3 separate regions of the Homo sapiens genome follow, and all the other regions are reported to be linked to region 2. Evidence: microRNA targets listed by miRTarBase, many of them from high-throughput screens and not tested one by one. Region 2 holds a microRNA gene; each other region holds the end of a gene's coding sequence.

Region 1 (7,309 bases), not on the chromosome of region 2:
TTTGTAATGTATGTGCCTGCCTGATATATTTGTGGATATGGCCATTAATAGCAAATGTATAATTTATAGTTTTGAATGTGTAAGATATGCATAATTATGTGTGAATGCTATAAAGCATATATACACCTGCATGTATGTAGTCATACATATGTTTGTGTGCAAGTATGTGCATATGAATGTCTGTGATTGTGCATCTGTGTATGTGTATATGTACATACAGTCATATGGGAATGGACCCATACATTTGTGTCTAATTTAACAAATACTTTTTTGAAGTTTGAGTAGAGTCTAAATCAGAGCTGCCTTTTTAAGTTGCAACAGGAACAAGAGAAAAAGAATCCATATCATCCACCTTTTAAAGAAGTTAGGCATCTACTGGCAAGGTGGAAGAAATCAACAAATCTATCAGGGATATACCTCTCAGAATGGGGCAGACCAACGTAACCTCCTGGAGGGATTTTGTCTTCCTGGGCTTCTCCAGTTCTGGGGAGTTGCAGCTCCTTCTCTTTGCCTTGTTCCTCTCTCTGTATCTAGTCACTCTGACCAGCAATGTCTTCATTATCATAGCCATCAGGCTGGATAGCCATCTGCACACCCCCATGTACCTCTTCCTTTCCTTCCTATCCTTCTCTGAGACCTGCTACACTTTGGGCATCATCCCTAGAATGCTCTCTGGCCTGGCTGGGGGGGACCAGGCTATCTCCTATGTGGGCTGTGCTGCCCAGATGTTCTTTTCTGCCTCATGGGCCTGTACTAACTGCTTCCTTCTGGCTGCCATGGGCTTTGACAGATATGTGGCCATCTGTGCTCCACTCCACTATGCCAGCCACATGAATCCTACCCTCTGTGCCCAGCTGGTCATTACTTCCTTCCTGACTGGATACCTCTTTGGACTGGGAATGACACTAGTTATTTTCCACCTCTCATTCTGCAGCTCCCATGAAATCCAGCACTTTTTTTGTGACACGCCACCTGTGCTGAGCCTAGCCTGTGGAGATACAGGCCCGAGTGAGCTGAGGATCTTTATCCTCAGTCTTTTGGTCCTCTTGGTCTCCTTCTTCTTCATCACCATCTCCTACGCCTACATCTTGGCAGCAATACTGAGGATCCCCTCTGCTGAGGGGCAGAAGAAGGCCTTCTCCACTTGTGCCTCGCACCTTACAGTGGTCATTATTCATTATGGCTGTGCTTCCTTCGTGTACCTGAGGCCCAAAGCCAGCTACTCTCTTGAGAGAGATCAGCTTATTGCCATGACCTATACTGTAGTGACCCCCCTCCTTAATCCCATTGTTTATAGTCTAAGGAATAGGGCTATACAGACAGCTCTGAGGAATGCTTTCAGAGGGAGATTGCTGGGTAAAGGATGAAGGTTACCCCAATAGGACACTTTCTTCTGTGTAGGCTGGGCATAGACCAAGAACCCAAGCCAAAGGGCCAGGTATTCAAGGCCTCAGGCCAAAGCTGTCCTACCCCCAATCTTCTGGGAAAGCCTTATCCTGCCTCTTGCCCTTCCCCCTGACTGCTTGGAATGCAGAGGCGGGGCTTCCTGCTCTGCTCACTGTGCACAACTCAAAATGAGCCCAAAATCTGAATTTTAACTTTCAGCCTCCTAGATGCCACCCCTAGTTACTGAAACCCATTGAGAATTAAAAATTTAATTAAGATAATCAAGAATTTTTTAATTGAGCTGAACAAAATGAGGGAAGTTTGGAGTGTTCAAGTTCAAGGCAGGGCTGGCTGGAGCCCATCAGGGATACTGTAGAGATTTCTAAAATCATTACATAATTAGACTATTTGACCTGTAATGTTCTTCCAAGATTTGAAACCTGGGGAATATCAGCTTGACAGGTTAGTTTAAAGCTTTGTTAAATGAACAGGTGGGTCATTTTTACTCCCACTGGGTGTCTTTCATCTTTTTATGTTTTTATTTTTTTTAATTTCAACTATTATTTCATATACAGTGGGGCACATGTGCTTATACATTCCTCATTGTGCTATTGACAGTAGCAAAAACATGGAATCATCTTTTTATATAGTTGTCCTCACTATCTCTGACTCTGTTACTTTGCCCTTTTTGTTTTGATTGATTTTCCAAGCTGGGTGCACTCTATTTCAGAAAATATATTTACTTCCTATTTTTTTTTATAACTGTTAATGTTCCCTGGTAGCTTCAGAATCTTGAGTGTCAAAGACCTTTCTCATTTGGGTCGCTTATCAAATTGGATACTGTTCTTTTGAATCTATTGCAGAACTATCTATTCTGCCTATTCCACTTTCCACATATAATGTGGTTATATATAGCGGCGGACATTATTAGAGAAAGTGTAATGAACTCACAAGACCGTCAGGCAGGAGTTTGAATCCAAACTCTTCAACTTACTAGCTGTGTGACTCTAGGTAAGTTATTTAACATTTTTTTCAGCTTCCGAGTCTTATCTTTACAATGGTTGGTGACTAAACAGGATCATGCATACAAAGAATTTAGCACAACCCTTGGATCATAGCGATCGTCCAATAAATTCCAGTTGCTACTATTAAAATGTGTGAAGGAAAAAGATATTGGCTTTTAGTTTAGGTAGAGTTTACTCTAGGTGGAGGATCAGAGAAGACTTCATGTCTTAAATAGTATCTGAACTTGTTCCTAAAGGATGGGTGAGCTTTGAATGCACTGACTGGGGAGAAAGTACATTCTCAGAAGAGAGAATGTAATAGCCAAAGGCTTGATGGTAAGACAATATAAGCCTAGTTTAATGTGTGTGAGTTATTCAGAGGGGCTGGAAACAACTCACAAATGATGCTGAGAAGTTAGTTTGAGTCATGACTTACTTGTTGAAATAATTTGAATACCTTGCTTCAGACATGGTCCTTTTGTCTATAGGAGATAAGGCACAGTAAAACGTTGAACAGAGAGAGGCATCTGGGAAGGGATTCAGGAAGATTAATCCAGCAGCAAAGGGGATGATAGATTTCAGTAGAGAGAAACCAGAGGCAAGGAGATCAGCAAGAAACCCATGGATATCAGCTTAAAAAAAGGCAAAGAGGCTTGAATATGGATAGTGACATTCAGAGACTGAAGGAAATCACAAACATGAGATTTTGAGAAGGTAGAATTCACAGGATTTGGCAGTGAGATAGAAGTGGGGCATGGCTTGAGAGACAAGGAAAGACCTTAGGCCGAGAAGATATTTTTCAGACAGAAATCCATATTTTTTCATGCTTTCAGGAAAGAAATACATCCTCTAATTGGAATTTGATGAAAACAATTTGAGAGGAAGGAAGCTAGAGCTCAGAGAAGAGAACAGGATGAAGACAAGTAGATGAGTTAGTCAGATAGCCAAAAGGGCCTCATCAGGGGAGAAAGGCCATCTACTCTGAAGTTCTCAATATTGGAAGAAGTAATGCCTCATTGCACTGAGGCCATGTGAGCAAATTCATTTCACCAGTTCATTCAGTCTGCCCAGCATAACATTGACTAAATGCACAGTGACGAATGGTTAGTAAGGATGTTTCAAGTATTGCTAAGTAATACTTAGAGGTCTAACTTCCACATGTAGTAGTCTTAAGTATGGAAGGGTATAAAATCACTTGGAGGGATTTTTCCAAATAGGTGTTTTTGGAATCTATCTAATTTGTTTCTACCTTGAAACAATTGATTTGGGATAGGGACAACATAATAGTCTTCAAAATCTCGTTTGGTGATTCAAATTTCCTCTCTTGATTAAGTATGTGACTACGCGCTTAGAAAGGGCAAACTCTTCTTCCAGGTACACACATTTGACCCACTAAATGACTAATAATTTGATTTAGGCCTTGAAAATTTTTGGCAGGGTTAGCATTGGGGGAATGGAATCACATCCACCTTTGCTTGTGATTATTTTCAGCACAAATAGTTTTAGACTATCCATATGTGGTAAGTGTGATATTAAACAATGCTAATTTTCGATGGCCTATATCTTTTCTAACTGTACTATTTTTGGTAACTTATAATCAGGCAATTTAGACATTTGTGAACATTAATTTTGAAAATACTTTCTGCTTGTTATATTCCATAGTATTTGACTATTTAAGAAAAGAATCACTAAAATACCTGTATGTTGTTAGTATCAATGATAACTTTTTAGCTTTAACCAACTTTTTGTTTAAAAAAGGCTCCTATGACAGGATTTGTCCTGCACAGATTCATTTCTATGCAGAGGAAGGGACTGAGACTTAAGATGGTAATCAAGTGGCAACATGAATGGATTGGTAAGTGGGGACTATTTGTGCAGAACGCTAGCAGTTTTATACACAGCAATTAAGATATCTAAGAATTCTCACCAGCAAATGACACCATTACCTTTTATAGATCAAATCAGAATGTCGGCATATAAACCTGTTCAGAATAAACCTGGCCTGAAAATTTTTGAAGATAGCATCACCTCTTCTTTTTTTAAAATTAATTCTTAATTTTATAAATAATTCTATTAACTGTTACTTTAACAGGATATTGAAGTATTATTTTTATTACATTAAAACTTAAGAGAAAATACGGGAGCTTGGAGGACAAGAGAAAGCCCTGCTATGCTGGAATTTTGTCTTTCTGAGAGTAATAACATCTACAATAATTTTGAAGTATGGAAAAAAAACAAGAAGAAAACAGGTGTTATGCTGATCTGTGTGTTGTTTCATTGTACAAACTAAAATATTCATGTTCCCCAGAAAATCAAATATCTTTATTTTCAAATTTAAATTTAAACACATTCCAAAGTTTAAAAAAATTGTTTGAAAATTGCCTTGGATTTTATTTATCTACTATACCATGGCCCTTCTTTACAGTAAAATTAGCTGCCCACTCTTATATGAGTACAGTTCCCAGAAATATAGAAGCTCAACATTTTACTTAACTTTGCCCCAAAAAATATTTTTAAAAAGAATTACTTTATTCTATAATCGGAATAAAGCAAAATGATAAAGACGTGCAAAACAGAACAAATAAAAATAGAAACTTTGACACCCCTCAGCAGTGACTAGTTGCATACAAAATAGCTTCCACTCCTCCAACTCTATTAACCTTTCTATCTCCCACCCTTGAGATTTTTTAAGATCCTACAATAAATGTAATATGCACACAAACACAAGCACACACACACACACACACACACACACACACACACGAGGCCATCTTTATCTTCCACATTTGCCTGTACTCTTTGCCCCCCAGTAAATTTCCCACGACACTAAGATTTTCTACGATCCACGAGGAGCTGCTTATTAGTTGCCAAAGTAGGAATTGGTGAAGCCAACGTAGTCATAGCCAGAGAGATGGCTTCGACCCCGTGGGTCCATATATTGCTGCATATGTGTGGCACAGAATGACACTTGCTCTGGGGTAAGGGCCTGAAAAGTATAAAAAGAGAAAAATACAGTTATAGGGATTCAAAATAGCTGGTTCCTTGGGGCTTCCCATATTACGCCATAAATGCAGGAGATGGAGAGTCTCTGGAAGACGCAAGCCCTATTTCTATTACACACAATTTTTATCTCATAAATTTATAATTTCTAATGAGTAACTTAACTTTTAATCTCAGCCCTTTCTTGAAAAAGAGAGCTTACTCACTTTGATTATTCTGTAAATCTCATTCCCTAAAGTTGTTTTATTAAATAGAAGGAATTATATGCCTAACAACATTTGTTGACCACTTGATCTATTTCATCTTCCTGGCTGCTTTGAGATGTGGGGACTAGCATGTTTTATGAGTAAGGTAAAATACTCAAGAAGGTAGAATAACTCACCAGTGGTTACACTGCCAGAAAGTGGTAGAGCTGGGACTTGAACCTATGATCCTCTTATGCCAAAGAGTTCCTCTATTCACTGTGCTGTTTGATTACCAAGTGGATCCCTAAAGACTCCAATAAGTTAGCGTGTGGGTGGGTGGCTCCAGATAGTGTCTGGAAGACCACATCATTTTCTTTTTGTAACAGCTTTGTCGAGGTATGATTGATAAAGAATTGCACCTTTAATGTGTACAGTTTGATGAGTTTAGACAATTGGATGAGTTTGTGCAAAACGATACCATCATGTATGTGACCCTTTGTAATCTGGTTTCTGCTTAATTGTTTTCCCTTTCACTTTCTGTTACTATCTTCTTACCTTATGCTTTAGGTATTAGGAAAATCTGTTTTCTCAAGTTCCTTTGCACACACACTTGCCTTTGCCTGAAACACTTAGGCTTTCCTTTGATGACTTGATGAGTTCCTGCACGTCCTTCAACACTCACCCTGTGTTAATCATAGATGATACTTTCCCTGATGCAAGTATTTTAAGGAGAGGAATGAAGAAAGCTCTTGGAATCAGAGAGAAGAGAGATTACTTCTGGTTGTAATAAAATTCCCCACATCTTTGTTCCCATGACAGATGTGTTTGCTTCTGTTACAGTGTTTTTAACTTGTAAAGTTCTGTCTTCCCCACTACACCTGAATTTAGGGACTGTGTCTTACTAAAGTTTGCACTCCTCATGCCTGGAACATAGTAAGCATTCAATAAATGCTCTTTGAATTAATGAGGAAAAAAAAAAGAAATAGCCTTAAAAACTGAGTTGCAGATTTTGAATTGACTCTCACATTCAATAGAGTACCACAGTACGTTTTTGAGTTGGGTCAAGACAAAATGAAGTGGTTACCAAAGCAAATGACATCTTGTGAAAGGGGAGGTCTGAAAAAAAAAAACAAGTGGGTGGGTTTTTTCAAAGTAGGCCACCGGGCCTGAGATGACCAGAATTCAAATTAGGATGACAGTGTAGTAGGGGAAGCAACCAGAATCGGACCTGCTTCATGTCTTCTTTGGTAATATATGACTTGCCCTCTGCCAGGGCTTGGAAGGCATTCTCTATTTCATCACTGGACTTGATGTTTTCTGACTCCTTGTCAATCAGGAAAGCAGTATAGTCCTCCAGTGAGACATAGCCCTTCCTGTGGGAGAAATGGATCAGGAGCTGAGCCTTCTCAAGGCAGAGAAGGAAGTCCCCTTTTTAATCCTACTCAGTGTCTCAGAAACAGAGGAAAGCCAGATTCTCCAAGTGCCTCTTCCAACTAAGCTTTCTGGGATGAGATGGGTTATGCTCTCCATTTTGGCTCCCCTTCATCACCCTCTTACAGCCAAACATTACTAAGCCAAATATTACTAAATATTACTAAGCTCCAGACTCTGTTTCAACATGGGTCATTCAGCCTGATTCTCGGTGAATTTTGAAATTTCCCATCAGCACCAGTCCTCAAATAATTTCTGGTCTTCTTTGGTTTTTAGTATTAGCAAGAATTATTCCCTAACAGT
Region 2 (7,309 bases):
GGCCCCTGATGGCAGTGTCCCCTCCCCAGGGGTCCTCAGCAACTTACGAATCTGCTGGGGCTTGTGTGACACAGTATACAGACTGGGTGACTTAAACAACAAAGATTTAGCTTCTCCCCGTCCTGGAGGCTGGAAGTCCAGGATCGAGGCATGGGCAGGGCTGGTTCCTCCTGAGGCCTCTCTCCTTAGCTTACAGACAGCCGCCTTCTCCCTATGTCTTTGTGTGGCCTTCTCTTTGTGTGTGTCACTTTTGAAATTTCCTCTTCTTATAAAGGACATCAGTCATAATGGATTAGGTGGCCCCTAACGACCTCAGTTTAACTTAGTGATCTCATCTTCAAACGAATCTACTTTCTGAGGTACTGGGGGTTAAGATTTGAGCATATGAATGTTTTGAGGGGGGCACAGTTCATTCCATAGCAGGCACAGAATCCTACTTCCACGTGCACCCATGACTCATGGGGAGGGTGTTGGTGCCAGTGTGTGCGGGCTCTCCCTGCCCCGCTGCTCAGGAGACGGGTTGTGGGGTCCAGGGGGTGGGTTGCGTGTCCGTGGGAAGGCCATGTCCCGCGGCCGGAGCAGTCATGTTTGAGTGTGTGTTTCTATGGATCGTGTGGGCATTATACAGATACACAAATGGGGAGGTCGTACATGCATACGCGTGCTACTGCCTGCCCCTCTGTCAGGGGGTGCGGCCTTCTCCCTGGGGACAGGCAGCCAGCGTCAGCGGAGCTGGGGAGCCACCCACCTTCACCCATCATGTCACCTCCTATGGGGCCAGACTGTGCTTAGCAGGTCCCATTGCACCCCTGTTCTTGGGGTTCTCACAGAGGGAGACAGTGCAGAGGACAGACCCCCACAACTGCCATTAGGGACAGGGAGGCGTGGACAGGGAAGGGCCCCAAGGGAGTTCCTGGCAGGCTCCCTACAGACGCCACCCAAGGACATCCCGGGTGCCTGGTGGTCTCTATCTGCAGACTCTCACATGTGACTCTCCCTCTGGTAACAGGCGTACGAGCGCGGCATCTCGCTGTTCAAGTGGCCCAACGTGTCCGACATCTGGAGCACCTACCTGACCAAATTCATTGCCCGCTATGGGGGCCGCAAGCTGGAGCGGGCACGGGACCTGTTTGAACAGGCTCTGGACGGCTGCCCCCCAAAATATGCCAAGAGTGAGGCGGGCAGAGGGCATGGGGGGGGTGGCGGGCGGGCTGGGTTTCTGACTGGCCCCGGCTGACCGTGCTCCCCTCTCCCCGCCTACCCCGCCCAGCCTTGTACCTGCTGTACGCACAGCTGGAGGAGGAGTGGGGCCTGGCCCGGCATGCCATGGCCGTGTACGAGCGTGCCACCAGGGCCGTGGAGCCCGCCCAGCAGTATGACATGTTCAACATCTACATCAAGCGGGCGGCCGAGATCTATGGGGTCACCCACACCCGCGGCATCTACCAGAAGGCCATTGAGGTACCCACCGTGGGGGGCTGGGCCGGGGCCAGAGGTCCCTGAGCAGACGGAAGGGGTCCAGGCAGGTGGGAGGGGCTGAGGAGGAGCCTTCTGGAAGCACAGGGATGGCCATGGTGTGTTGGGAGCCCCCGAGCTACCCCGGCCTCACTCCCGGCCTCCCCAACCCCGGTGTCCAGGTGCTGTCGGACGAGCACGCGCGTGAGATGTGCCTGCGGTTTGCAGACATGGAGTGCAAGCTCGGGGAGATTGACCGCGCCCGGGCCATCTACAGCTTCTGCTCCCAGATCTGTGACCCCCGGGTAGGGCTGTGGGGAGGGACGGGTATCAGGGTTGGGGGCTGCGGCGGAGTCAGCCAGCTCACGGGCACACACACCCACCCCTGCCCTGCCCCCCACGCAGACGACCGGCGCGTTCTGGCAGACGTGGAAGGACTTTGAGGTCCGGCATGGCAATGAGGACACCATCAAGGAAATGCTGCGTATCCGGCGCAGCGTGCAGGCCACGTACAACACGCAGGTCAACTTCATGGCCTCGCAGATGCTCAAGGTCTCGGGCAGTGCCACGGGCACCGGTGAGCCGTCCCAGCTGGCTGAGTTCCTGATCCAGGGCATCTCAGCCCGGCCTGACCTGGGCTTTCCGGGTCTGGGAGCCTCGGATCCTGATGGCAATCTCCTTGAGGGCTGGGCCATCACCTGGGGGACTGGGATAGTGCAACGTCCGATGTGTGGGAGGGGCCCCCGTGGCGCTGACCCCCTGCTCCCACCCCCTAGTGTCTGACCTGGCCCCTGGGCAGAGTGGCATGGACGACATGAAGCTGCTGGAACAGCGGGCAGAGCAGCTGGCGGCTGAGGCGGAGCGTGACCAGCCCTTGCGCGCCCAGAGCAAGATCCTGTTCGTGAGGTGAGGGCGGATCCTTGGACGGGACAGGACTGGGACAGGTCCCAAGGGGGCCCGGGGTGGGGAACTGAGGCAGCATGGCCCGTCCCTAGGAGTGACGCCTCCCGGGAGGAGCTGGCAGAGCTGGCACAGCAGGTCAACCCCGAGGAGATCCAGCTGGGCGAGGACGAGGACGAGGACGAGATGGACCTGGAGCCCAACGGTGAGGGCCCGGCTGGGGCGGGGACGGTGGCATTACCAGGGTGGGCCTCGGGGGACAGGCCAACGCCAGGAGGGTGACTGGCTCCCGCCTTCCCCACAGAGGTTCGGCTGGAGCAGCAGAGCGTGCCAGCCGCAGTGTTTGGGAGCCTGAAGGAAGACTGACCCGTCCCTCCCCCATCCCCCCTCCCCACCCCCTCCCCAATACAGCTACGTTTGTACATCATGGTCTGAGCCTCCTTCCTGCTGCCCAGGTGCCCGAGGGAGTACAGCTCAGGAGTGCCTGGCCCTGGGCCGGGATTGGCTGCTGTGGGAGGTGGGGCGGCTGGGCCCCAGGCCAGATACTGCCCGGCCTCACCCCGCAGAGCCAGTTCTGGACTCGAGAGGCCAGTCCCTCCGCTGCCTGGGGCCTTGGAGTGGGTCCTGCCCGGAAACTTCCTTGAGCCTCTGTAGCCTGGGAAGGGCAATCCAGCCCCTGGCTGCCCAGGTCTCGCCAGCCCCTGCCTCTCAGAGCCCTTCTGTGGCCCCAGGCAGCTGCCGCCTCCCTGGGGTGGCACCCACTGTCTGTTCCCCACTAGGGACTGGCCCTTGCCCTCAAGTCTTGGAGTCAGGCAGGCTCTGGCCCAGCTCTGGGAACTGATTAGTAACGCGTTTCTGTGCCTGGACGGGGGCCAGGCGCCAGACCTTGTGCACGGCCCAGGACCAGGGCGTGGTCCTTAGTCCTAAGCCTGGGAAGCCATTAGCGGGCTGTAGGCTATTAAGGGGTTTTAAGTATCAAGGGATATAATCAGATTTGTGCTTCGAACGGGTCACACAGGCTGCTGTGTGGGCAGGAGGCAGCTGGGGACATGGGGAGGCCCAGGCCATTGGCTTGGACTTTGCAGGGAGGTGACAGGGCTGGAGAGAAGCGAGTGAGACAGGAGGGGAGGGCTGAGCTGTGTAGAACTGGGCGGCAGCTGGGAAGCCAGTGCCAGCCTGGGTTGCAGGGCAGGCCTTGCATCTGAGAGAGACACCCAGGCAATGGCAGGGGGCAACTGGATTGTCAAACACAGATCTCAGAGAAACCTGGAATCACTGGCCCAGAGGTAGATGCCAGGCCTGGAAACACCAGGCTGGCCAGGGGAGACAAGATCAAGTTAGAAGTTGGCCCCATGCCAAACGCTGGTTAGGGCCAGTAACAACAGCCACACAGACCAGGAGAATCCAGCAAGCGGGGGTGGCCAAGGCCACAGGAAGGGCCAGTGGGACACCTCGAGCCTGAGAGATCAGTTCAGAGGCAGCTTCGAAACAGCCCTGGCTGGGGGCTGGGAGTGCCCTGGCTGAAGCTGCATTAGGGGATTATGGGGGTTGAAGACAGGAGTTGGTTTGAGAAAGAACAGGAGACTAAAAACACAGCCAGGGAGTGTGGGACCCCGGCCAGCCTCGGAGGGGGGGACAAGGTTCAACTTCTCTTTAAATTATTTTATTCAAGAAGTGGGGGAGGACAGACAAGGGGACTGAGCTGAGCCCTGAGTCCCTGAACCTCCCAGCTCAGCCCCCACAGCAGGACTGGACTCAAAGTCAGAGGGTGGAGACTCCAGCCCCACCCAGACACGGTTGGGGACAGACAGGACCCAGGAATACCGACTGACTGTCCTCCAGGGGATGGCGGCCGCAGCACACAGGGCCCGGCCCGTGGACCGCCCGGGTGGGGCTATTTGGGGGTGCCGCCGCCCTTCTTGGGAGTGGTGGGTTTCTTGCCCTGCCAGAGGTGTCCCTGGATGGTGAAGGCATCGACGCTCATGGACATGGTCTTGGCGGGGATCTGGGTGAAGCGCTTGCGGTCCGAGTTGTACTTGTAGATGCCTTCCACCATGGCGGGCGTGACGGTCCGGGGCCCATACCCTGCCAGCCGCGACAGCTCCTCTGTCTCCCCCGACAGCGTGTAGAGCGCCCGGAACTGGCAGCTCGAGTCGCGAAAGAGGATCAGGAAGTGGTTGGCCTTGCTTTTCTCAATTTCCTGGGCAGGAGTGCTGGAAATGGTCAGCTGGCCAAGTCAGGCCACCCACCCACCCACCAGCCCCCAACTCCCACGTGTGGGCGGGCTCACCTCCAGAATGCGATTCTTCTGCGGTTCGTTCACCTTGCCCGCCAGGCAGCAGTGTGATAGGGCATTGTGGATGATGAACTTGTTGGACTTGGCGCTGGGTTCTTTGTACAGCCGTGGACCTAGAGGGTGAGGCAGTGGGAGGGGGTGGGGGGCAGCAGGAATGAGCAGGGGCTGTGGAGGAGGGTGCCTGTTGCTCCTCACATCACCCAGAGCCCCTGCTTACCTGTGTACTCGGGCACTGACGCTGGGGAGGAGGCATTGCTGCCATTTTCCCAGTCCCGTTCGCGGCTTCCAGGCAGGCGGCTTGGGGACATGAGACCTGACGGGGAGGGAGCCCTGCAGTGGGAGAAGGATGGGATGGAGGTGGGGTCAGGATGGGATGGAGGTGGGGTCAGAGATGGGAAGCTTCCCTATGTGCAGAGGGGCCAAGGAAAATAAGGGCCACGGCTGGGCATCGTGGCTCATGCCTGTAATCCCAGCACTTCGGGAGGCCAAAGCGGGCAGATCACTTGAGGTCGGGAGTTCGAGGCCAGCCTGGCCAACATGGTGAAACACCGTCTCTACAGGCACGGGTAACCCCAGCTACTCAGGAGGCTGAGGCACGAGAATCACTTGCACCCAGGGGGCGGAGGTTGCCGTGAGCCAAGATTGCGCCACTGCACTCCAGCCTGGGCGACACAGCAAGACTCCCTCTCAAAAAAACAAAAAAAAAAAAAAAAAAAAAAAAGGCGGGCCACACACACTGCAGAGGAGGCGGTATACACTGCACACCCTCCCAAGTCCATGCAGTGCCCCGTGCTGTCCTCCTCCCACAGGAACACCTGGCACTCAAGTGCACTGAGGCACATGCTTGAGTCCTGTCTGCCAGGTACAGACTATGCCCCATGCACACGTGCCCACACGCGTCCCTCCATCTCTTCATGGCGTATCCATAAACTCGAGCCATACCGCCCTCTAGGTTCACCCAGATGCCCACACACCTCCCAGGCTCTGGGAAGCCACCCGGCATACGAACCCCGCCTGTGCGGGCTAAACTCACCGAGACGTGGGCCTCTTCACCCCGAGGTTATTGTGGGCCTCGTTGGCCACAGTGGACAGTGACAGGGTGGACTGGGAATAGATTTTGCTCAGCCGAGAGCCTGGGGACAGAGATTGCAGGTCAGTGCCCACCAGAAGCCCCTGCCCTCCACAACACCCGGTCCAGCAGGCTGTGGGGGGAACACAGGAGGAGTCAGTCCTGCCCAAGACCCCTCGGCCCTCTGCAGCACCCCTATGGGGGGACCCCTCTATGAGGGAGGATGCTTTGCCCAGCAGGCAAGTGGGGAGCAGCACTGGGTCAGCCCCTACTGGCAACGCCTCACCCCAAACATACTCCCAAAGGTTCCTATCCATGAAGCCACAGAAGAAAGACCCCTCATCCCACTGCACCCCACATCCCTATGGAAGTCTTTTTTTTTTTTTTTTGTCTTATTTCTGAGACGGAGTCTCGCTCTGTTGCCCAGGCTGGAGTACAGTGGTGCAATCTTGGCTCACCGCAACCTCCACCTCCCAGGCTCAAGCGATTCTCCTGCCTCAGTCTCCCAAGTAGCTGGGACTACAGGCATGCCATATGCCCGGCTAATTTTTGTATTTTTAATAGAGATGGGCTTTCACCATGTTGGCCAGGCTGGTCTCAAACTCCTGACCTCAGGTGATCCGCCCGCCTCAGCCTCCCAAAGTGCTGGGATTACAGGCGTGAGCCACCGCGCCCGGCCCCCTATGGAAGTCTTTACCCAAGAGACAGTGTCCAACCCCACCTGAGGCCCCCTGTCACCCCACATACCCGCCCCCTCCCGGCACCCCTGCTTACATCTCCCTCCCCCTCCCCCCTTACCCATGGGGGCCTCACCCAGTGAGCCCCGGAAAGGGCACTGGGCAGGCCCCGTCCCCCAAGGGTCCTCACCCAGCAGGCCGCGGGCTGGGCTTCGTGCCAGGGCTGAGTCGTCACAGCAACCCGAGCGAGGCCGGGTGGCCCTCCGCCCGCCCCGACCTGGACCCCCGGACCCCGCAGCCCGGGGCCGCAGCACCTTATCGAGGTCGTCCATCAGCTTCAGCTGGGCCCGGCGCTCGTACTCCTGCCGCGTGAAGTCCCCCTTCCGGGGGCCCACCTCCTCCTCGGCTGGAGCCCGGGCAGCAGGGGCTGGAGTCGCCATCGGGACTGCGGACACAAGCGGGGCTGGGCCCGGGGCCTCCTCTTGGGCCAGCCTGCAGATCACAGGGAATCGGCATCAGAACCGCTCACGGGGTCCGCGGTGGCAGACAGGCCAAGGAGCGGGCGTCCCGGGCAGGCCCGGCCTCACCTCGCGGCCTCCTCCCTCCGCTGTTCCTTCTCCACCTCCTGCCACTGCTTGCGCCGCCGCGCCTCCTCTGCTCGCCGCTGCTGCCGCTCCAGCAGGCTGGCCCGCTTTTGGGCCATCTCGTCCTCAGGCTTGTCTTCATCCTGGGGACAGACGCCGAGTCCAGCCAGCCACCCCCTCCCCCAACATGGCTGGAGGCCCATCTTCCCTCCACCCAGCCTGCCCGCCACCCACCTGTGCTTTTGTTTTCATCATTGTTCTAAATGCACTTAGTTGGTGCCTACTGTATGCACAGCCCCACACTAAGTACTGGGACACAACAGGGATG
Region 3 (7,309 bases), not on the chromosome of region 2:
AGTCAGCAAGGCCTCAAGCCAGAAGCCAGGCTCTTTCTAAACTCCCAAGTCCATGCACAGCTTAGTGGTAAACTGGTGCAATATCTGAAAACCACTGTTTTGTCCTTTTTTCTCATTGTTTAAAATGGGAAGATAAATCCAGTCCCTGTTAGTCCGTTTTGGCCACAATAAGCTGAATTGTTTCTTGAAGTTCTACTTCACTTCTTTAATCCTATTCAGACCCCATTTCAAGACCCACTAACAAATTGAGATCTTTTGTTAGAAAAATACCTCTCTAGGTAACTGCAACCTATGGTCCACTTTGGCTTTCTGAGGTGGGAGCTCTATATCCCAGTATCAGGGAAATCACTTCAAAATCACTTCAGAAGTTCAAGAGGAATTTCTGAGATCTCCTTCACCAGGCTGGGGGCTATAACCTGCTACTCTCACCTCAGAAAGCTAAAGCAGAGACACATTGGACATAAACTGATCCATCTTTCTAAAGACATCGCTTCAACCAATCTTCTTATTTTTTTCCTCCCCACACTTCCTTGCTTTGGTTGATTAACCTGGGTTCTTAGAGTCAAGGAAACAAGCAATTCTCTCTATTTCTTGTATAAATCCACCCATGGCACCTCACTTGGGAAGTTAAAATCTAGGAATTTTAGTTGTAACCTGATGCTGAAGGTGTTCTATGAAAATGAAGTATTACACATAAGACTCAGAGAAGGACTTTCTCAAGGTCACAAAGCCAGTAAAGGACAAAGCTAAGACCAAGTCTTCTGTCTTGCTATATTTTCTGCATGCACAGCCTATTACTATATTTGACCAACATATATCACCTGATCACTTGTTTTGTCTTTCACTTTGTTCCCTGAGCCACCTCCATTAATCAGGATCCCCTTTGAATGGCAGCATTAGAATGGCCACTACCTTTCTTGGGTTGATTGAGTACATCTTATCTTATAAAGCTGTCTTGATAATTTTGCTTTTCTTCATACTCTTTCCTTGACATATTTATCAAAACACCATTTAAGCCAAGCATTCTGTTGATGGACTAGTTACATTTCAGACACTTGAATTATTAATGATTTGTAGAATGGTTTCTTCACCTGTTCCTTAAGGTTTACATGAAGCCCCTGAAATCATATGCAAAGTTTTGTACATATGACCATTATTCTGGGGAGAGTACATAGCTTCCATCATATTATTAAAAATATCTGTAACCCCTAAAGGTTTGGGGTAAGAATATGGTAACAATACAGTAAGAAACAGAGAGAAACCTCAAGTGCCCCAGAGTGTATCTGTTTTTCAGGCTCTCTCTCTCCATAAAATTGCTCTGCTGCTCTGATAATTCTACCTTTTACTCTGAGACTCTTAATTTCTAATATGCATGGTTCACCAAATCACATCTGCTAAACTTACCTCTCACTCTGGCTCCAACTCTAGGAAATCATGGCAATAAAAATCAAGAACTAGAACTTGTTAATGTAGGAGAGAGTTTTTCTCACAGGGCATGCATATGGAGTACTCTAATGGGAACTTGCCAAACAATCGGGGGTGGTGAGATGACAGTATTGTAAGTTAAGAGAAGCAAGAACTAAAACTAAGAAAAAAATTATCTCTCAATATCTGGTAGAGGAAGGGTGTGAGGTTTCTTAGTGTGGTATTGATGGAGGACTTTACGGATCAATGGAGCTTGAAAAGAACTTGCAGAGGGCTGGGTTAAGAAATGGTAGAACAGAAAGTCATATGTATTGCAGGACATGTTAGGGGATGAGGTGGAGGGGATGAGGTGGACAGGGCCCAGTGGCTCTCAGACTCTAGGGCATCAGCTAACAGACTGAGTTCTAAGTGCATCATTATGCCCATAGTCCAGTGATTCTCTTTCTGTCCACAGCTAATACCTCCAGGACACTTCTAGAGGATAAGGTGAGTTTCATTTCCCCACAGTTTTATCTCCACCATTACCTGCAGCCTCACACTCCCTCTCGGTTTCCACTTCTTTCTTCCATTTCAGGATGTCTCAGTTGTCTACTCTGAGGTAAAGACACAACACCCAGATAACTCAGCTGGAAAGATCAGCTCTAAGGATGAAGAAAGTTAAGAGAATGAAAAGTTACGAGAACGTCCTACTCATGTGATTTCTCCCTTGTCCAAAGTCCCAGGCCCAGTGCAGTCCTTGCGGCCCCTGGAATGATCAACTCATTCCAGCTTTCTAATTCTTCTCATGCATATGCATTCACTCCCAGGAATACTCATTCGTCTACTCTGATGTTGGGATGGAATGGCCTCTGAAAGACTTCACTAAAATGACCAGGATCCACAGTTAAGAGAAGACCCTGTAGTATTTGCTGTGGGCCTGACCTAATGTATTCCCTAGGGTCTGCTTTAGAGAAGGGGGATAAAGAGAGAGAAGGACTGTTATGAAAAACAGAAGCACAAATTTTGGTGAATTGGGATTTGCAGAGATGAAAAAGACTGGGTGACCTGGATCTCTGCTTAATACATCTACAACCATTGTCTCACTGGAGACTCACTTGCATCAGTTTGTTTAACTGTGAGTGGCTGCACAGGCACTGTGCAAACAATGAAAAGCCCCTTCACTTCTGCCTGCACAGCTTACACTGTCAGGATTCAGTTGCAGATTAAAGAACCCATCTGGAATGGTTTACAGAGAGAGGAATTTAAAAGAGGACATCAGAAGAGCTGGAGATGCAAGCTCTAGGCTGCGCTTCCAAAAGCAAATGATAATTATGTTAATGTCATTAGTGACAAAGATTTGCAACATTAGAGAAAAGAGACACAAATATAAAATTAAAAACTTAAGTACCAACTCTCCAAAACTAAATTTGAACTTAAAATATTAGTATAAACTCATAATAAACTCTGCCTTTAAAAAAAGATAAATATTTCCTACGTCTGTTCACTGAAATAATTACCAACCCCTTAGCAATAAGCACTCCTTGCAGAGAGGTTTTATTCTCTAAATACCATTCCCTTCTCAAAGGAAATAAGGTTGCTTTTCTTGTAGGAACTGTGTCTTTGAGTTACTAATTAGTTTATATGAGAATAATTCTTGCAATAAATGAAGAAGGAATAAAAGAAATAGGAAGCCACAAATTTGTATGGATATTTCATGATACACCTACTGGTTAAATAATTGACAAAAACCAGCAGCCAAATATTAGAGGTCTCCTGATGGAAGTGTACAATACCACCTACAAATTATCCATGCCCCAAGTGTTAAAACTGAATCCATTCAAGTCTTTCTAACTGAATACTTGTTTTATAGAAAATGCATGGAGAAAAGGAATTTGTTTAAATAACATTATGGGATTGCAACCAGCAAAACATAAACTGAGAAAAAGTTCTATAGGGCAAATCACCTGGCTTCTATAACAAATAAATGGGAAAAAAATGAAATAAAAAGAAGAGAGGGAGGAAGAAAGGGAGAGAGAAGAAAAGAAAAATGAAGAAAAGTAATTAGAATATTTTCAACATAAAGAAAAGACGAATATTTAAGGTGACAGATATCCCAACTACGCTGATTTGATCTTTACAAATTATATGAGTGTATGAATTTGTCACATGTATCACCCCCAAAAAAAGAGAAAAAGAAAAATAGAAGACATATAAATTAAATGAGACGAGACATGTCGACCAAAAGGAATGTGTGGGTCTTGTTTGGATCCTGACTCAAATTAAGAAAAAATAAAACTACCTACGAAATACTAAGAAAAATTTGTATACTAATATTAAGAAATTGTTGTGTGTTTTGGATATAAGTGATAGTTTATTGTAGTGATGTTTTTATAAAAGCAAAAGGATATTCACTTTCAGCGCTTATACTGAAGTATTAGATTAAAGCTTATTAACGTAAATTCGGCGTACATGAAATTAGTAGATGAAATGATGTGATTTGGTTTGAAATAACCCGATGAGGTGAGGGTGGGTAGGAAGTGGGTAGGTATAGATGTAGCAGGATCAGTCATATGTGCACCATTTCTGGAGCTGAGTGAAGGGTACATTATGGGAAGAAGAGGAGGCTTATACTATTCTTTACTTTTGCAAGTTTTAATTTTCCATAATAAAGAGTTAAAATATCTACACCCAGAAGACCACCTCGTTATACCACTCCATTATTCTACTCTTGTCTGAGGTGCTGCTCACTTCCGTTACAGTGGTGGCTTCGTGTCTCCCTTCTTTTTCCCTTTCGTCCCCACAGCCCATTCTCAGCACTGCGGTCACTGTGCTCAAAACCCTGCAGTGCCTCCCCATCTCTCTTACAGTGAAAGCCAGATGCCCTAAGTGCCCACAAGCCTCCACCTGATCGCTCCCATTGCCTCCAGTCTTCTGCCATTCTTCCCCTTAGCACTTCACTGAGGAAGCGCTGCCTTCTGCACTGCTTCTTGCACACATCAGGTAAATGCCTGTTTGAGGCCTTTGCATGGGCTGCTCTCTGCTTAGAATGCTCTTCCTCCCTGATATCCACCAAGGCTTTGAGGTCTGCCCTGGTGACTCAAGGCTTTGAGGCACATGTAAATCTGGAAACTACTTCCCCCCATCTTTGGCACCTCCAGTCTCCATTACCCTGATTTGCTTTCTTTCCATAGCGCTTATCACTTTCAAACATACTTTGAAACAAACGTTGCCGATTTACTACACTTACTGCATATCATCTCTCTAAAAACTAGATTTCTTAAGGGCAACAAACTGTGTTCTCTTTGTTCATTGATATACCCCAAGTACCTAGAACTCTGCCTGGTACATAGTAGGTGTTTAATCGATATTTTTGAATGAATGAATCAACTATTTCAGTAAGGAAAATCATTGCCCTCTCCATGATGGAAAGGATCCAATGCAAATAATCCACAACCACAGAGTACACAGGCCCCTGAGGAGCTGACTCCATCAGAGGCTCAGGTTTGGCCTCTGTGTATGTCAATTGGGCACTTAGCAGTGGTCAGACTGGCCTGGGTGAGTACATCCTTATGTTACTGAATCCTTCCATAAACTCTGCACCTTCCACCAAGGCCGCTTCATTAATGAGCCCTTTGAGCAATTGCTGGAGTAACTGGAGAAAGAGGCTGCCTGACATTCAGCCAGAGCAGATGATCACAGCCTCCTGATTCCTGAGATCTTCCTCAGTAAGGCCTTGGGTGAGTATTCTCATAAGACACAAATATTCTCATACTCTGGATCCATTCAAAGAGGTCCAACAATATGATTCTTGCCTAATCTTGCAGTTTTATTCTTTCCAAATTCCTGACCATACAGCTCCAAACACTAGCCACTGCTCATGAATCAGAGTAAAGCCTCACCTCTGGACATCTCATCTTCCAGTCAAAGTGGACCACTGGGAATACCCATCTCTGTCACAATCCTCCAGGGATTCCTGAATGTGGTTGAGGTGCTGCAATTGTCACCCTCAGCTGATGTGAGGGCATATTTAAACCAGGATAGACTGTTTTTTCCTCCTCTGTCAGTTGGTCATAGGGAACTCACCACCAGGTCATAGTTGCTGGTTGAAACAGAGAGGTAAAAGAGCAGCAGAATATGAGCTATTCATTGTTTATTCAACTTACCATTGCTTTCAGACCATTCTGGAGTGAGACCTCCTGCAAATCACTTCCACTTAATGATGGAATAATCCTCAATATATTATGAATTTTTGCTTTGTGGATCAGACAGCTTCCAGTTCATGGGGAACAGCTCAGGTCTCTGGTGGGCCATGTTCAAGTGTTCAGTGAAAAAGAAAAGTTACTTGAAGAGAACATAGTTTTGCTCCAAAATTTTATGGTTCTCAACTGTGATTCTCCTGTAGAGCCTTGCTGTAGCCTTTACACAACATTCTGACCAGCCATGACAGTTTTGGGCTCTTTGGATATGCTGGATCCTAAAAGCTAAGGTCAGTGCTGCTTGCACTGTAGCTTAGACAAGCTAAAGACCCCTTGCTTGCTCAGGGGTCCACTCAAGGATGATAGGTTTGTGAGTTATCCAGTTATTGAGTCAGAACAAGCAACCAAATGTGACATCTGTTGCTTCCAAGATCCAGAGGCCTGTCAAATGTTGGGCTTCTTCCTTAAAAGAATAGAAGCAACAATTTAATATACTATCCCAACATGTTGCAGACACCCGATTGCACAATAAATCCCCAAAAAGGAAGAATTAGATTTAATAGAATTTCTTTAATTATTAATTTTAACAGCAGAAATCTGTATATTTTGCTAAGAATAGTAGACCAAGGATAGAGGAATATAATTCTGTTTGAGGCTAAATGAATTGGTACAGATACACTTGGAAGAGACTCTCGACTCAGTGGACTAGATCAAGCAGCTGGGAGTGATTCTAATTAGTTTCTCTCTTGGTAGATCAAAATCTGTAGGCAACAATGGCCTTGGAAAAATAAAGTTGAGATAATAACAAGTCCTTGGTATAACGTAGGGGAAGAATTCAAAGATTTATAGAGATGGGATTGTGGCAGTGGATATATCGATATATCACACATGTTCCATTCACATGTACCCTATATCTCTTAAAAGGGTATTTCCACAGAACGTTGAAAAATACATTAGTGATAAAAGTATCAGCACCTTTGGAAAGTATAACAGAAATAGGTCAAGGACAAAGGTGAAGACATTGCCTCACAAGTAGGCTCCCTGATAATGATGGAGTCTCAGAGTAGCAGAGACAAAAGAAGGCATGGCTACAATAATGAGAAAATGGTAATGACAATACTATGACTGAAAACAACTTTGCGGCCAGGAGCGGTGGCTCATGCCTGTAATCCCAGCGCTTTGGGAGGCCGAGGTGGGCGGATCACAAGGTCAGCAGATCGAGACAATCCTGGCTAACACGGTGAAACCCCGTCTCTACTAAAAAATACAAAAAATTGTTGTAGTTCCAGCTACTGGGGAGGCTGAGGCAGGAGAATGGCGTGAACCCGGGAGGCAGAGCTTGTAGTGAGCCAAGATCGTGCCACTGCACTCCAGCCTGGGTGACAGAGCGAGACTCCTTCTCAAAAAAAAAAAAAGAAAAGAACTTTGGGTCATGGGAACAAAATAGGTGAGCAGACCATACGCACACAAATGAAAGTAAACTGGAAGCCTGCTTGGAATCATAGAAGAGAATCATATTCACCCATTTTTGTGCCAGTTGCTGTACCAGTCAGGGTTCAGTGGCAGACAACAGAGTCCACCCTAACTAATTTATGAAGAAAGGAATTTGTTTAGGGTATTAGTGGAAAGACTAGAGAGTAAGGCTCTAGGCTGAGCCTGTAGGAACAACTTCCAGAAGCAAACTGCCAAATTGGCATAACAAGAGGGCA

What was found. Region 2 holds the annotated microRNA hsa-miR-6792-3p (CUCCUCCACAGCCCCUGCUCAU, at 4,806-4,827, opposite strand). A microRNA usually pairs through its seed, bases 2 to 8, with sites in the 3' UTR of a target mRNA and lowers its output. Matches are read on the target gene's strand: a 7mer-m8 pairs with bases 2 to 8, a 7mer-A1 pairs with bases 2 to 7 and ends in A, and an 8mer does both.
Region 1: the mRNA of SPTA1 is a reported target of hsa-miR-6792-3p. Seed matches in the 3' UTR shown: 7mer-m8 at 5,033-5,039.
Region 3: the mRNA of FCRL4 is a reported target of hsa-miR-6792-3p. Seed matches in the 3' UTR shown: 7mer-A1 at 3,420-3,426.

The regions. Positions count from the first base shown.
Region 1 is chr1:158,606,014-158,613,322 of GRCh38, forward strand. It overlaps SPTA1 (spectrin alpha, erythrocytic 1), which reads right to left. Exons shown (of 52, transcript NM_003126.4): 51 at 6,804-6,948; 52 at 4,691-5,376. The coding sequence ends at 5,251. It overlaps OR10Z1 (olfactory receptor family 10 subfamily Z member 1), which reads left to right. Exons shown (of 2, transcript NM_001004478.2): 2 at 313-6,501. The coding sequence starts at 426. The coding sequence ends at 1,367. Among named protein-coding and RNA genes, the nearest start is that of OR10Z1, 4.4 kb to the left of the region's middle.
Region 2 is chr19:7,614,998-7,622,306 of GRCh38, reverse strand. It overlaps MIR6792 (microRNA 6792), which reads right to left and starts at 4,868; the gene lies at 4,802-4,868. CAMSAP3 (calmodulin regulated spectrin associated protein family member 3) reads right to left here. Exons shown (of 17, transcript NM_020902.2): 12 at 6,985-7,124; 13 at 6,588-6,889; 14 at 5,685-5,784; 15 at 4,869-4,981; 16 at 4,646-4,764; 17 at 4,003-4,555. The coding sequence ends at 4,250. It overlaps XAB2 (XPA binding protein 2), which reads left to right. Exons shown (of 19, transcript NM_020196.3): 13 at 1,010-1,172; 14 at 1,271-1,461; 15 at 1,638-1,760; 16 at 1,861-2,032; 17 at 2,232-2,361; 18 at 2,451-2,560; 19 at 2,660-2,782. The coding sequence ends at 2,721.
Region 3 is chr1:157,570,301-157,577,609 of GRCh38, reverse strand. FCRL4 (Fc receptor like 4) reads left to right here. Exons shown (of 12, transcript NM_031282.3): 11 at 1,880-1,911; 12 at 2,000-3,863. The coding sequence ends at 2,086. Among named protein-coding and RNA genes, the nearest start is that of FCRL5, 21 kb to the right of the region's middle.